Linked DNA regions of Homo sapiens: region 1 is linked to region 2. The links come from fine-mapping of genetic effects on gene expression. A gene starts in region 2. The other region holds a variant in brackets. All regions are shown on one strand. Distances are from middle to middle.

Region 1 (5,529 bases), 42 kb before region 2:
ATGAACTATAGTGAGTGAAACTGATCAGTAAGAATAACAATACCTAATATTTGAGCACTTCCAGCTAATATTTGCTGCCTAAAGCACCATTGAGAAGGATTCTCATGACTCTTTCAAGATTCCAGGCTCTTTTTTAAGTGCTTTACATATTTAATAATTTGATTCTTACAACAAGCCCATGAAGGTAAGTTGTAATACTTTCCTATTTCAAGAGATAAGAAAATTGAAACATGTAGAATTTGAGTAACTTGCAAATTCATACAGGTACTAAGTGGTAAAGGCTGGTTTCAAACTTAAGTAATTATAACACAGTATGATAAATGCTGAAACAAAGGTTATGGGAATAGTACAAACAAGAATTTAATTAAACCAAGTAGTTATGGATAACGTTAACAAATACTTTTAAAAGTCTTTTGTGAACTAGCCTAAAAACTTAACTGTCCATTATTACTATTTTTTTATTACTATTATTTTTTTTTTGAGACAGACTCTCGCTCTGTCACCAGGCTAGAGTGCAGTGGCGCGATCTCGGCTCACCTCCCAGGTTCAAGTGATTCTCCTGCCTCAGCCTCCCAAGTAGCTGGGATTACTGGCATGTGCCACCACGCCCAGCTAATTTTTGTATTTTTAGTAGAGATGGGTTTCACCACGTTGGACAGGATGGTCTCGATCTCCTGACCTCGTGATCCACCCACCTCAGCCTCCCAAAGTGCTGGTATTATAGGCGTGAGCCACCATGCCTGGCCAATTGTCCATTATTTTTAACATTATTTGTAAAGAAAAACTCTACCTGTTTCAAAGAAATGAGTATAAAAGAACACTTTACAACCTAACTGCTTATTATAGACTAAGTTCAGTAGATTTTAGTTTCCTCACCTGAAAAACAAAAGAACTAGAGTAGATCAGGATAGCAAGTACATGACGTTTGTGCGGGCCCTCCCCGTTCCCATAAAAAACATCAATAATTTATCATTACACTCTTTAATGCCAAGCTGAACCCAAAGATGTGGGAATTCTCAACATTGCTGTAAACAGCCACTACTAAATTATAAAGTCAGCATAGAAATGGAAACCAGGTATTATCCCTGAATTAGACAGTCTCTACAGTCCCCATCTGACTCCAAAAATCTATGACTATGTATCCAAAAAAAAAAAAAAATTCTTTAAACCACAGAAAAAGAAATCACTTTTATTTTGTCAGGTGAGTGTAGCAATCATTGCTAGCAAAATATAGACCTCCCATTGTTCACTTTCAAATCCTTGGAAATACACAAAGAGAAATTAAACAAAGACACTGCCCCATCTTTAAAATTTTCATAGACTATCTAGATAATAGCTCAAGTTCTCTGCCTTTTAGTAGAAACATCAAGAGCTATTATATGTGGTTTCCCAGTACATGTAAGTTTAAAACAACAAAGGATGAATGACCAGGGCAAATACGTTGTCCAAATGAAACTAGTTAACATTATTAAACTGAATTACTATCATGACAATAAATGCGATCATGCCATAAAATCTCACAAAGCCTTATGAGGGTTGAAGAGTTACACCATTTTCTTTAACACACAGCTTTTACATGGGATTGCACATTCTATGAACACCTTTATAGGAGAAAAAGAAGCATCATACGATTATATCATCAGGCCAGTATTGGTCTTTTTGAGGTGAGTTTGCCTATACCAGTTTATTAAACAAATGTTTCAGTCAGTGATGCATCTAATAGAGAACTAATTTTTCCTTGAAGCAGGAGTCAGGGGGAGACTTCCTAGAACTCAACTGCCCTCAGTAGCACTGTGTGAAAGGATTATATTGCATGCTAACCAGCTAGTCAATCCTCTTTAGCTGCTAAATATAATTTAACACCAAGAATATCAGCCCCATATTGCTATCTGCCTAATCAAACATTTCTGCTTGATTTCTAATTTGTTCAAAATTGAACCTGATCTTTCCCACCATAAGCTTACTCTTCAAATTTTCTCACTGATTTTAATGGCACTTCCTTTCTCCTCATCACTCTAGCCATTGATGACTCCATCATCACATGTCTGGATAATCAAAATGAGCTTAACTGGTCTTCCAATTTTAAATAACTTCCCCCTTCTAATCAATCTTCTTTTTCTAAGACTATAAGAATTTATTCAAAAAGCACTGCTTTTATTTTGCTTTCCTCTCTCCCAGAACCAACA[T/C]TGGCAACACATGAGATCGTATAACAGAAGAAACATTAACTTATTAATCAAGAAGCTTGGGTTCCAGCCCCAGTTCCTCTACTCAGTAATTTGAGCAACTCAATTTGGTTTCCTTACCTGAAAAGCAAGTCCTGGATTAGAAGAGCTCTGGAATCCCTTCTATTGAAAAACAACAAATCTCTTATCCTGGAATTCATGGCCCACCATAATTTAGCTAATCAAACTCATCTACAAGCATCCCCCTAAGCATATACTCCTACTGTCCACTACTGTTTGCATGCTCCTGAATTATGTTAGTTACCATAGTGCCCTACTAACTAGTTCTTCTTATAAAATGAACTCACCCTCCTTTCTTACCAAAACTATTCTAAAACAGAGGGGTTAACAAGGGACTCCTTTCTTCTTTGCCTTTTTCTGATATTTTTAAATCCTCAACAGTCAATACATATTTTGTACGCAGGAAGTGTTCAGAGAAAATAAACAAACTTTTCAAACCAGAACTACAAAGTAAAATTATCTCAATGCATAAAGCCAACCTAGTAACCCTCAATAATATATCCTATTTTTCTTGCTAGAGATTATTTGCTGTACACATTTGGATATTAACTTTAAAACTTAACCTGTATAAACTGTGGCTCTAATGTAAAGACTCAATAGTTAATAAACTGATTTTATTTTGGTTCTTTTAAGTGCATGGTCTAATTTATTAATGGTAAGCTGAAGTGGATACTATATATAGCTAATATGGTTATCAGAAAGTGCTTAATCTTAGTACATTAACAAACTTACTCCATTTCCTAGAAACCCAATCTGTTTTTCAAACCAAAATGCACTATTTTAGGAGCAGCTGGTTAGTTCCAGTACTACCAATTCAGTAATCTTATAAGTTAAATTATTTTTGTGAACTGATAGAGAACCCCCAGTTACCATCTACAACACTGCATTAGTAAGAAAGTGGCAAATGATCAAAAAAGTAACTTGGGGGGAGCCCAAAACATATTTTCCTTTCCCTCAGCCATCATTCAGCTTACAGAAAGAAGAAATGAATGATCCAGAGATATTATCCTATTCTCCAGAATCTTCAGTGACTTGATTTCAATATAAAACAGGACAAATACTCCAATTTAAGAAAAAAAATAGCCAGGCGCAGTGGCTCACGCCTGTAATCCCAGCACTTTGGGAGGCCGAGGTGGGCGGATCACGAGGTCAGGAGATCGAGACCATCCTGGCTAACACGGTGAAACCCCGTCTCTACTAAAAATACAAAGAATTAGCCGGACGTGGTGGCAGGCACCTGTAGTCCCAGCTACTCGGGAGTCTGAGGCAGGAGAATCGCTTGAACCCGGGAGGCGGAGATTGCAGTGAGCCGAGATCACACCACTGCACTCCAGCCTTGGCAACAGAGCAAGACTCCATCTCAAAATCAAAAACAAAAACAAAACAAAAAAAAGTAATGCCTCATGCATGCAAAAAAGGCAGAGAATTTGCTATCAAAAGGTCTGTGCCAAGCCCCGCAACTTAATAACCCACAGTCAAATCTCAGAGCCTCTTATCCTCAGATTCCTTAACAGCAAAATGGGAAATAATCATAATACCAACCTTGTCTACTGCATAAGATCACTGAGAAGCAAATGATATAATAATGTAAAATGTTTTGAAAACTTCGAAATTCTTCACAAATATCAATTAAAATATTATGAAGTAATATTCTTAAGTCAAATGCTCACCAATTTTAAGTATTCATCTATTACCAAATAAATTCACCTAGTAGGAAAACTAAAGTGATGAGGATTAGAAAGGAAAGAATTATCCTCAATAATATCAATTTTCTAAGTCTGGGTTTTTACACATCTTGTTTTTTTTTAAAGTAGGACACACAAAACTCTACAGAAACAATTTCAGTGAATTAAGTGTCTGAATACCTACACCTTTTCTTAAAGATCTCCAGGGAGAGAAATTCCACAGCTCCCTTGGTATTTTTCACTCTGGATCTGAACAACTCAAATAAAGTATAAACACGTAGCTTTCATTCCTTTCATCTGATATAAAGAAAAGAAAATATGCCCAGTTAGTTTAAAATGGAATAACTCTAGATAGAAAATTCTATTCTGCAACAAGTTTTATGTCAGGTAAAGACAGAATATCCAATGTATAACAGATCTAAGCTTTTTCTCTTTTATTCACATATCCTCCTGAAAGGGCGAAAACATCCATTGCCTAGCCCCGCCTCACCAAAAAAAGCCTATCTGGTTTCCTAATTTTCATAATGGAATGCTAACTTTGACACTTGCTAATCCAGAATATAAAACGTATAGTCTTCTCTTCCTTTCATACCATAGAACATCAGCACTTTATGTACTTGTCAAATGTTAATGTTAAACTCCAGCAAAAGCAAATACTGAGACAACTGATGCTAGAGAGAACTTAAGGCCCTTTTAACTATTTTTGTCAAGATCCATCCTAGTGTTCTTTTGGAAGAGCTAAATGTAATACTGTTGAACTATATTACCTTAATTTGTCATAAAATGTATTGATTACCTGACTATTTAAGATTATGCCTTAGGCTCTCACTAAGGGCCAATATAGGAAACAAGTAATTAAAAAAAAATTTATTCTGGTTTCCAACACTGTCCAATAGGTTTTTCAATATATCTTTTAATATAATATCCTTTTATAGCACTCGCTGTCTGTGGCATTTCATTGACAATTCATGCATTATAATTTATTGAAATTCTTATTTGCTTGTCTATCACTTACCCTGCACAGTATACTCAAGAGCAGGAATGTCTTGTTCAACATTATTTCTCAAATGCTAAGCAAAGGGCCTGCACATAATAGAGCTCAATAATCATTTGCCTAATGAATAAATCATTTATTGTAATTTGTTTCCAAGATATATGTTCAGTCCAAAATAGAAAATAATCTCCTTACAAGAAAACACACGCCTTTTGTTTATCTTCTTCACTCTGGCTGCGACTATGCCTCACTCAGAGAAGGGACTCAATAAATACTTGATGATGACAATAACCATTATGATAGTGGTAGTGGTAGGAAGAAAAATTAACCTAATCAAAACAACATATATCATATTGTTCATAATATCTTCATATTGCATTGTTCATTAAAATCAAATATAAAATTAAGTGATTACATGTTGAGATTATAGATATTTTCTTCTTTATTTTCTGTTTTCTAACATTAGTTAGGGAATATTAGTTGTGCTTCCACACACCAGTAAGCCCAAAATAAATCAGTTCCTTATGTAAACAAAATCTAGTAGACTATAGTAATTCATCTAAGAAAAACGAATCTCCTTCTGTAGAATAGTTACACTTCAGAAACC
Region 2 (5,000 bases):
AAAATATTCATCCAATAGAACTTCAAGTATTTAAAGAGACAACTTTTAAAAACCTATCATTTCCTATTCTGGATACTATGTTTTCTTATACAAACCTTGGTTCAAGTGACCTGCTGCAGAATTAAAAGAGGTATGTAAAAGAAGGGAGTAGAGAGAAGAATAAAAAGCAGTAGGGTAAAGGGTGTGAAACAGAGTGTAAGAAAATAACTAGGATTTGGAATGTAATAAACACAAAGTAGAGAGTAGCAAGCCTATGCCATAGCATAGAAAAGAACTGGTATCTGAAAAGAATCAGTATTGATAAAACCTTGAAAGCAGGAAAAAGCTAGAAATAAAAACAAAATAAATCTTTAAGTTTGATCACAAACAAGCAAAATATTCAAAATTAGACATTAGGTTCCTGACAGGAAACAAAAGAAACATCACCCTATTAAGAGTGGGGCTACTAACAGTATAAGTTAAATTACACTTACTGGAAATTACTATATAATATTCAATGACATTGGGAAGTGAAAAAAATTACAAAGAGAATGCACCAAGTCTTGTAAACAGCGGTTATCTCAGAATAGTAGAATTAAAAGCAAATTATATTTTCCTTCTTTTTTTTCTGCTATAAAGTGAATGACTTGTGGTGCAATCTTACAAAGTCTCAATCTGTGTATTCTGCAATAAAGGCATTATATTATCACTATTGCATTTGTGATACATTCTACCTTACCCTTTATGTGACAATTCTATACTGTTTTAACTGTCAAATTGTAAGTAAAAGTGTGAATTCGTGACCAAAAATTTTCCACACCAGCAACTTAAGAACTACAGCAATATGTTTAGAAAACTGCGATCCCAAACAAAAAATCTATACTAGGTGAGACAGGATGACATTGACTTTAATTCCAATAGACTCACTACCACATGACGTCCATTACTAGTGCTCACTTTCCAGAACCCAAGGAGCTGTGGAAGAATGGAGTCCTTTCAATGAAAATAAACTAGAGGCAATACACAACACAGTTACTTTGAGGGGCTTTTTCAATATAAAGAAGATTGCCCGGAATCCTAACTCTCCTATTTCCCAAAAATGACAAAGCCAAAAAGTCACACTCTTCACACATCTGAAATCAAGTTTTACCTGAACTCATCCTAACATATTAGCTCTTTTACCTATTCCCCTTACTATCTAAGGCAAGAAACCTTGAAAAGAGAAGCAGTAACACATTTCACTGAAACATATTTTGTAAAGGAGGATTCTAATTCCTAATCCTTCACCGCTCTAGATGTCTGCGGATTTCAAATCCTAACCACGGCGTCCTGCCCCCCGCGAGATTCCAACAGTACTACGGGCCCTATGGGAGGAGGAGGATTTGAGAAACACTGCCGGAGAACGGTCGGTGCAAAGATTTTGCAAACAGGTAGTCCTAGGAAGGAAAGTAAGAGTGAGAACATCGGAGAGGGCAGGGAGTACATGGGTGGGGAAACCCCTTTCAAATGCATGAACTGACCACAACCGGAGAAAGGCCGTCTGTCTTCCCAAAAGTAAAATGGTGAGTAAAGTGGAGCAAGCTAAGAAAGTCAACAGCCATTAGGCATTGACAACGATTCCGAAACAATTAGCTATGTTAATTCGAGGGGGTAAACGGGGGTGGGACCCTGCCCTAAAGGGTCATTTTGAAAAGAACCCCTCCCCATTTGAGGCGGGTTGGCAGAGCAGCGCACAAATCCCAAGTCTAACGTAATAAGCCGAGATCGGGATACTCGGTCTGCAGTCGCCCCACGGACCAGATGAGCGCAGGTGTATCTGCGGAAGCTCAGGTTACCATGAATATCACTGGGCCACGGCGAACCCTCCCTGCCCAGCCTCCCGGAGCCCTGGGCGCGGGTCTGCACGGGCCCCACAGCTTGCCCGGACCCGGCGAGCGGACGCCTCCGGCCGCAGCGCCCTACCGCACCTGGCTGCCAACACCAGTTGAAAGCAGTCAAAGTGAAGGGAGGCGGACGCGGCTCCTGGCACCGCTCCGATTCCAGCACACAAAGGCGGATTTTTAAAATCGAGAAAGTCAAAGCCGCCGGACCCCGGGACCGGCGCCTTTCGCCAAGGGGCTCTTACCTCGGATCCGCCCTCGGGGCCACGGCTTTCCCCGGAGACGCCGCGAGCCCAGACGAGGTGGGAGGGGACCGGGAGAAAGCCCCCCAATCTGATTCGCGCCCAGCCAGTCGTCCGCGAGCCGCGGAGCCGCCTTCTGCACCCAGCTAAAGAGCAGCGATCTCCGAGGCGAGCACAGCGCCGGCCTCGCGCCGGGCGAGACCGCCTCGCTAGCTGCTGCCTGTGAAGTCTGGAGCCGCCCGCCCGCTCGCAGCCAGTGCCAACCGCGCGCCGCGCATGCCCAGTGCCCGCGCGAGGAACGAGCGAGCGGGCGGGCGGGCGAGTGCGCGCCCCGCAGCCAGGAGCGAAATCCGCTATCCGGGTCTTGCCGGCAGCCGAGCCGCAGAGTTCTGGTCGACTCCAGCGCTTGAGGCGAAGTGGCCGGTGAGGCCGGGTGGGCGGGAGAGGGACCGGAGGAAAGGAGACGGGGCGCTGCGCCAAGTTATCAAGGCCGCGATCAAAGTCGGACCAAGGCAGCGAGTCGACAGCAGGTTTCCAGAAGTGCCCTAACAGGACTGACTAGCAGCCAGGAGGCGCAGGAAGGGGCAAAGAGCGTGTGGAGAGCTTCGCCCCCGGCGAGGATGGACGCCCCGGGCGGAGGGAGCGCTCGGGTTGCAACACCCAGTCTGGCTGCACAGCTCGTAACCCCTGCCCTTTGGCGGCAAACAAGACGCATCTAATGACCAGCCAGCCTTCGTCTTCCTCCTCTGATCATCGGACCTATTTTCCCCCTTTTGTCGCTCTCCTCTTTTTTTGTCTCTCCAACCCATGCGGTAAACTGGTGGTGCCCAAGGCCCTCCATCGGGTCCCTGAGAGTCTCCCAACTGCCGGTCCTTAGCGCCAGCCTGCAAGCCCAGACCCGCCTCGCCAGGCTGCCTGTGAGCCTATTTTTCATGTAGCTCTTGCCAAAAGCCCTGATGTGGTTTGAAGTAGTGGAGGCTTCTTTCACTTTGTGCCTCTCGTACCTTAACCAACCCTCATAACCTCCTCTCTGAGTAGCTCATGGAGCCTCTAAAAGAGAAGTCCATGTTCTCATAGACATTGTGTTTTCTCACTCTTAAAACTCCTCATTGTCATAGCTACTCCCCCAATCCCCCCATGCTGTCCTAACTTCGAAGTCAGTTGACTTCCAGAAGTCCACGAAAGCCTATAAATTAAACTTGGTTAAAAGAGATTGGACTTGCTTGCTTTGTGAAGCAAATAAAAGCACAGTCAGGGAGAAACGACGTAACATGCCAAGGTGGACATTCAAACCATTCTAAAAGTTGGAATCGATATAACGGCTAAGTCCAGTCCCCTATTTTAAGTGGGAATACTCTCTCCAATATTTCCACCAGACCACTATCCACTTGAACATTTCCAATGTTGTAAATTTCTATTTTTATCATTACATATAACCATGATTATTTGTTGAATATTTACCTATGCCAGGAACTGAGCAACTTACACACATTATTCCTAGTCCTTAAAATGAGATGGGCCTTATTATACCTATTAAACACATTAGGAAAATGAAACCCAGAAGTTTCCTTCTTTTTGCCAAAGCCAATGCTGACGCCAGAATTAACAACCAGGTCTGCTTAACACTATAGCCTGTATCATTTATGAACATCAAATCAACTTCCCTGATACTACTGGTCTTGGTTCTGCCCCTAGGAACAACACAATATGAATCTCATTCTTTATAGACACTGCAAGCCTTGAAATAGTAGGGGCAACTATTAAGTAACCAACAGATCTAATACATTTCTTCAAAAATTCTCTTTTAAGTGTTTTTCAAATAGCAGTGAGCTGCCATAATCACACTATTCACCTTGCTTTGAATGTGTTTTGATTTTCATTCTCCTCTCTAAATTGTGCACTGAGAATACAATATTCAAATACAGTGGGCCAAGAACTGAGTTCCAGTTCTCCAGCTGCTGATCAGCCACCCCTTTGATGCAAGCACACACTACCTAGATTCAAACAGAACACCCAAGTCTATTTCACATCAACTAAATTAAACCGTATCTTCCACCTTTCATAGTCTATACTTCTATGTATTTAAATCTTGATTTTTGTTTTATTCTTATTAAATTTTATCGTGTTTGTTTTAGGACACAATTTCAGATAAATACTAGTGATCACTTTTAACATTTGTAAATTTAATAAGTATGCCTTGTTTGGCTCCATTTACGTCTAGTAAGAAACAGTAACACAGAACGGGCTTTAAAAAGGCCTGTGATATTATAAAATATATATTTGGTCTTCATCCCATTTCCAGACATATAGCTCCTAAAATCCTTGAAATCTCCAAAGTGATGAACATCTTTTTGTATTTGAATGAATTGGCTGATGGCTGGGGGCTCCAGCATAGCTTCAGGATGGGGACTGGTCATAGGAAGGACCAAGGCATGATTAGTGTGTTGGAACCTTCAGCCCCACCCTCTAACTTCCGGGGCTGGTTAAGCTGATCACCAATGGCCCATGACTTGATCAATCATGCCTACGCAATAAAGCCTCCACAAAAAAAAAAAAAAAAAGAATGGGTTACATGCACTTCCAGAGAGGGGAACATGAATAACTAAACGGAGATTCCTGGATGGCGGTGCTCCCAGAGAGGGCATAAATCACCCTATGCATCTCTTCAACTGTATCCTCTGTAATATCCTTTATAAGAAAATGGTAAACATGTTTCCCTGAGTTCTGTGAGCAGGTCTAGCAAAATAACCAAACTCAAGGAGGGAGTCACGGGAACCCTAATTTCTAGTTGTTCAGCCAGAAGCACAAGTAAAGCCACCTGGGGCTTTTTTGTTTGGCATCTGAAGTCAGGGTAGTCTTGTGGGACTGAGCCCTCAACCTGTAGGATCTGACATTATCT

What was found. PIP is the estimated chance that this variant, and not a neighbour inherited with it, causes the effect.
Region 1: its variant is the best candidate, but not a certain one, in a credible set for the expression of EPS8 in blood mononuclear cells (TOPMed, PIP 0.85).

Annotation. Positions count from the first base shown.
Region 1 is chr12:15,744,415-15,749,943 of GRCh38, forward strand. All of the region lies in intron 1 of EPS8 (EGFR pathway substrate 8, signaling adaptor), which reads right to left. Among named protein-coding and RNA genes, the nearest start is that of EPS8, 42 kb to the right of the region's middle. The variant T/C (reference allele first, on the strand shown) is at 2,187.
Region 2 is chr12:15,787,057-15,792,056 of GRCh38, forward strand. It overlaps EPS8 (EGFR pathway substrate 8, signaling adaptor), which reads right to left and starts at 2,332. Exons shown (of 21, transcript NM_004447.6): 1 at 2,105-2,332. RefSeq lists silencers at 1,400-1,479, 1,810-1,929, 2,190-2,539.